Regions from separate parts of the Homo sapiens genome. Here region 2 is linked to region 1. Evidence: fine-mapped expression QTL. A gene starts in region 1. The other region holds a variant in brackets. All regions are shown on one strand. Distances are between the middles of the regions.

Region 1 (3,020 bases):
CCAAGTGCAGCATGAATATCATCAGTGGCATAAATACAATCTTAGGTGGCTCACAAATGGATAGGGGTTATGTTGACAGATAGGTAATTTTAAAACATGTATTAGCACATCAAACCCATGATATCGTAACTATTATTGTTTTTGTTGAAAAATTTTTAAGTTAAAGAAAAATATTAAGTAAATAGAGGTGCAAGGATATGACAAAAATGGAAAGTTTGCTACTCATTAAATCATTTTAATATCCAAGATTCTTCCCAGCTCAGTTATTCTGTAGTACATCAGATAGCAAAGAAAATTTTAAGAAGGAACTAGTATCAGCAATATGCAGTTATGGCAGAAGCTGTACCCCCAAAATCAGAGTGCTGGACGTCAGCAGAACCCCTTTAACTTCATTAAGTCCTTGACTCTCTTTTTTGACCACGGTGTTTGCCTGCTACTAAAATCTCTAGGGCAGGAGCACGGTGACTTCTATGTCACCATCCCACCTACCCCATGCCACATTCTCCATCAACAGCCCCGCCCCTTGTCCCTGTCTCCCTGGTGACACATAACAAAGGCCATCAAGCTCCCAAATCTTCAACTCCATCCTCTCCAAGAAGGACCCCAAAAGCATTTGTGTCCCAGCAACTGTGAACTTTTCCAGGCTGCCAGACAGAAGTTTATCTAATGGTGGTCAAGACCTGCCTGGTTGAATACTAGTAAAAACAATCCTTATTCACAATTTATTGCTATATCTACTTCATCTTCTCTCCTCCACAAGATTTTCCTTTTACTTTTAAAAGAGGATGCATGAAAACTTCATAAAGTAGTTTGCTTCCAGACTAAGAAGAAAGGAGGCTGGGTGTGGTGGCTCTGCCTGTGATCCCAGCCCTTTGGAAGGCCGAGGCAGGCAGATCACCTGACGTCAGTCGTTCAAGACCAGCCTGGCCAACACGGTGAAACCCCGTCTCTACTAAAAATACAAAAATTAGCCGGGCGTGGTGGTGGGTGCCTGTAATCACAGCTATTAGGGAGGCTGAGGCACAAGAATGGCTTGAACTCGAGAGGCAGAAGTTGCAGAGAGCCGAGATCGTGCCACCACACTCCAGCCTGGTGACAGTGGAGTAGGCCACATGCATCTGTGGTCCTGAGTAAATGCCCTTGGGCCCATTTTCAAAAGCCTGTTGGGAGAAAGCCTGTTACTCCTCCACTGAGAGTCTCAGACCCAGCTCAGATGGAGACAGGGAGAGGTGCAGGTGGATCAAGCCCAAGCTCCGGACTTCCCAGCTACCTCCTGAACCTCATCATCCCACAGCTCCCAAAGGACCCCAGTTACCTCGGAACAGCTCCAGAAACTGAGGGCTGTTTGCTCAGCGCCCCAGCATCTGTGCAGAGCACCGGAAAAGCTCACCAACTGTTTCACTTCCTGTTGGGGTAGGTTTTATTTCCCTCCAGTGTGCACCAGGGATCCAACTAGAGGCCGGGGAGAGGGGCTCTGCAGTGCTGAGGCAGCCAGAGTGGCAAGTGTGTGGCTTACATGCATGCTTGCTGTGTGCATCTGAGTTTGATGTGGGGGGCTTGTGCGCATGTTCATGTGGGTGTTTGTGTGTTCGTGTGTGTTTCGGTTTATGTGCATGTGGGGTTTGTTTTTTTTTTTTTTTTTTTTTTTTTGTAGACAGAGTTTCACTCTTGTTGCCCAAGCTGGAGTGCAATGGCGCAATCTCAGCTCACTGCAGCCTCCGCCTCCCGGGTTCAAGCAGTTCTCCTGCCTCAGCCTCCCGAGTAGCTGGGATTGCAGGCGTGCGCCACCATGCCCCACTGATTTTTTGTATTTTTAGTAGAAATGGGGTTTCACCATGTTGGTCAGGCTGCTCTCGAACTCCTGACCTCAGGTGATCCGCCCACCTCGGCCTCCCAAAGTGCTGGAATTACAGGCGTGAGCCACCATGCCCGGCCGCATGTGGGTTTATTTGTGTTGGAGGGAGGGTGTGTGTGTGTTTGTGTGTACTGTGTCTTTGAAAGGTCCACAGCATGTTGGTTTTGGAAACAAGCACCGCAAAGAGGCACTCCAAAATCTGTTCATGAACTCTGGGAAGTTCTCCTTCCTCAAAATGTGATTGTGGACTGTGGGGCAACCCATTAGACAGAGAGTAAAAAGTAGCTATAATAAAATATATGTTTTAGGGGGGAAATCAGGGATGCGGGGACAGGACAGTAGAGGGGGCAGGAGGTAGGAGACAAGAGCTGGGGTGTGAAGAGGACCAGCAAGAACAACGCTCCAAGGGACAAGTGGAGCAGACAAGGCTCCTGTACCCAGGACGGTCAGAGTCAGACCTCGCTTTGTAGCTGGCCTTAGCACTGTAGCAGTGGGGCCTCGACCAAGTTGTTTCAACTCTCTATACTTCAGTTTCCTCATCTGAAAATGTGGATAATAAAAGCACCCACCACAGAGGGTCCATTGTCAGAATTAAAGGAAAAACACATGCAAAGTACCTGCCACATAGAAAGCTCTTGATAAATATTAGCCATGACTATTCTTAGAAGTAACTATTGGGATGCCTCATCCAAGCCAATTAGAAATGCAGACATGGGAGGCTACACCAGGGACCTCCATGTCACATGCATGGTCTAAAGACTCGATTGCACCCCACTCCTCCCCAGTCCCACTCAAATCTACCCCCAAGACCCCAAATCTACCCCCAAAAGCCCACGGCAGTTTCAGTTCTGCAGCTCCCATACATCTGGAGCCTTGATGCTCCTTTTTGTCATTTTCTCCAAAAAGTACCAAGGTCATTCATTTAATAAACAGGAAGAAATCCCAAAGTGAAAACACAGAGGGGTCAGGGATTCCCTCATCAAGAGTTCAAGACTAGGCTGGGCTCAGTGGTGCATGCCTGTAATCCCAGCACTTTGGGAGGCCGAGGCAGGTGGATCACAATGGAAGGGGTTCGAGACCAGCCCCTACTAAAATACAAAAATTAGGTGTGGTGGTGCGCACCTGTAATCCCAGCTACTTGGGAGGCTGAGGCAGGAGAATTGCT
Region 2 (2,732 bases), 39 kb before region 1:
CCGGGGTTGGGGCCCTCTGGGTGACTGGGAGAGGAAGGCGCCGGAATGGATCCAGATTAAATCGGATGCTGTATGCCCTGTGGAGACATGGGGTGTACCTCTAAACGCACTGCGTTGTAAGCAAAGGAGTGACCTGATTTAATTTGATCTTTTAAAAGTCATTCTAGGCCAGGCCGGGTGGCTCACGCCTGTAATCCCAGTGCTTTGGGAGGCCGAGGCGGGTGGACCACGAGGTCAGGTGTTCGAGACCAGCCTGGCCAACATAGTGAAACCCCATCTCTACTAAAAATACAAAAATTATCCGGGCATGGTGGTGCATGCCTGTAATCCCAGCTACTCAGGAGGCTGAGGCACGAGAATCCGCTTGAACCCGGGAGGTGGAGGTTGCAGTGAGCCGAGATCGCACCGCTGCACTCCACCCTGGGCAACAGAGCGAGACTCCATCTCAAACAAAACAAAACAAACAAACAAAATGTCATTCTACACTGTGAAAAATGAGCTGGAGGAGGCAAAGGGAAGAAAGGGGAGATCAGTGAGGAGGCTGTTGTCATAGCTCAGGCAGGAGTATGGTAGCTTGGACTTGGCAACAGCGTGCAGGTAGAGCACCACCGCTGGAGTCTGGATGCGGGATGCATTCTGATGTAGGGAGTGGGGGACCGCGCAGCATCAAGAAGCCACCGCTGGAGTCCAGATGAGGGATGCGTTCTGATGTAGGGAGTGGGGGACGGCGCAGCATCAAGACTTGCACTGAAAATTTCTGCTTTGAGCAACTGCGTGGAATGGATGGAGGTGTCCTTCACCAGCTATGGGAAAGGCCAGGGAAAGGTTTAAAGGGCTGAGTGTGGTGGCTCATGTCAGTAATCCCAGCACTTCGGGAGACTGCGGCAGGAGGATCACTTGAGTTGGAGACCAGCCTGGGCAACATAGCAAGACACTCTTTAGAAAAATTAAAGTAGAGAAAAAGAAAGGTTTAAAGGGAAGAGACTGAGGGTTCAGAATTGTACCTCATCAGTTTCTGAGATTCCTGTGAGCTCTCCAAGTGCATAAATAAATGTGGGAATCATTAACAAATAAATGGTATGAAAAAGCAAAGGAATGGATGAGACCACCCAGGAAAAGTGTACAGAGAGAGAAGAGAAATAAAGAGGAGAGAGTTAAAGAGACCAGAATAGGCCAGGCATGGTGGCTAATGCCTGTAATTCCAGCACTTTGGGAGCCAAGGGGCGAGTGGATCACCTGAGGTCAAGAGTTGGATACCAGCCTCGCCAACATGGTGAAAACCTGTCTCTACTAAAAATGCAAAAATCAGCTGGGTGTGGTGGCACATGCCTATAATTCCAACTACTCGCGAGGCTGATGCA[A/T]GAGAATTGCCTGAACCCGGGTGGCGGAGGTTGCACTGAGCTGAGATCGCACCATTGTACTCCAGCCTGGGCAACAAGAGCAAAACTCCATCTCGAAAAAATACAAAAATAAAAAAATAAAGAGACCAGAATAGAAGAGAGCCCAGGACTGAGTCCTGAGGAAACAGCACAGAGATCAGAGAGAGGAGAAGACTCTGAAATAGGGAAACTGGAAGAAATGGCCAGAGACAGGAGAAAACCAAGAGGGTCAATGTCACTGTGGCTGAGAGAGAATATTTCCAGAGGATGAATTTGCTCAGCCAGCCAAGTGCTTCTCACAGGGTCGCTCCATACAGAGGCCATTGATTTCATGGGCACATGGAGCTGATTCAAGAACGAGTGAGAGGAAGTGACAGCGTGTGCAAGAAGACAGCTTGTAGAGGGCTGGCTAGCTTCTCCTCACTTTGTAGCCACATCTGCTATGAACTTATCCCATCTCTTCTTCCAGATTTCCATGAAAGTATTTTTCTCACTCTCCAACAGGGTACTGTACCTGCAGGAAGAGGAGGAGCCCAGGTCAGCCTCAGGGCAGGGGTTGGGGAACGGGGCAGGGAGCCTGAGAGGACATTAGAGCCTTGCAGAGCACTCTCCCCAGGCCAGCAGCAAGGACTAAACAGCCATGATGAGAAGGAACCCACAGGAACCATCGAGGCATCTGCCTCAAGCCTCCAGAGAGGCAAACACAAGCTGCGGGCTGGAAGGAGGCGGGGGACCTGGGAGGACACAGGACACTCACTTGATAGAGTTCATGGCCAGCTGTTTGAGGGTCCTCAGGTCAGCCTTCATCCCCCCAATGCCCATGAAGACCTCATAGAAATCATAGGACAAGCCTTTGGCACCAAACATAGCTGGGTCATCAGAGCTGATCACCATGGGGTGCCCAGTGGCCATCAGAGTGGCTACAGGGTGGTTCCTCAAGTCAGACACCAGTTTCAGCACCTGCGCAATAGGAGGGAAGGGAGAAAGATGAACTCTGATCCCTAAAAAGAGTAGTCACAAGTGAGGTGAGACCTTGAGCCCCATCAGCTCCCTTCATCTTCCCATCACTATCTCCCCAGTATGGGGATGACTTCTGGGCAGAGTCACAAGGAGACATAAGGAACAGAGCCAGTCCTTATGCTCCTCCTCATGTTTCATCAGCACTGCAAACATCGGGTCACTTCTGTTCCTGCTCAGAGAAGCGCTAACTGAACACAGACACAAAGGACCCCAAGAAACCATGGGGAGCAGCATCCCATGGTCCGTCCCACTTCACTGGCCTCCCCCCATGTCCTTTTTGCTTTGTCTACAGTCTTGCCCAAAATTCCACCCCACTGGGGACCCTCACTGCTG

What was found. PIP is the estimated chance that this variant, and not a neighbour inherited with it, causes the effect. A credible set is the group of variants that fine-mapping cannot tell apart.
Region 2: its variant is the best candidate, but not a certain one, in a credible set for the expression of ADA2 in whole blood (TOPMed, PIP 0.61).

What each region holds. Positions count from the first base shown.
Region 1 is chr22:17,218,041-17,221,060 of GRCh38, forward strand. ADA2 (adenosine deaminase 2) reads right to left here and starts at 1,395. Exons shown (of 10, transcript NM_001282225.2): 1 at 1,316-1,395. RefSeq lists enhancers at 772-1,132, 973-1,042, 1,053-1,182.
Region 2 is chr22:17,179,684-17,182,415 of GRCh38, forward strand. It overlaps ADA2 (adenosine deaminase 2), which reads right to left. Exons shown (of 10, transcript NM_001282225.2): 9 at 2,137-2,339; 10 at 1-1,893. The coding sequence ends at 1,800. Among named protein-coding and RNA genes, the nearest start is that of HDHD5-AS1, 22 kb to the left of the region's middle. The variant A/T (reference allele first, on the strand shown) is at 1,362.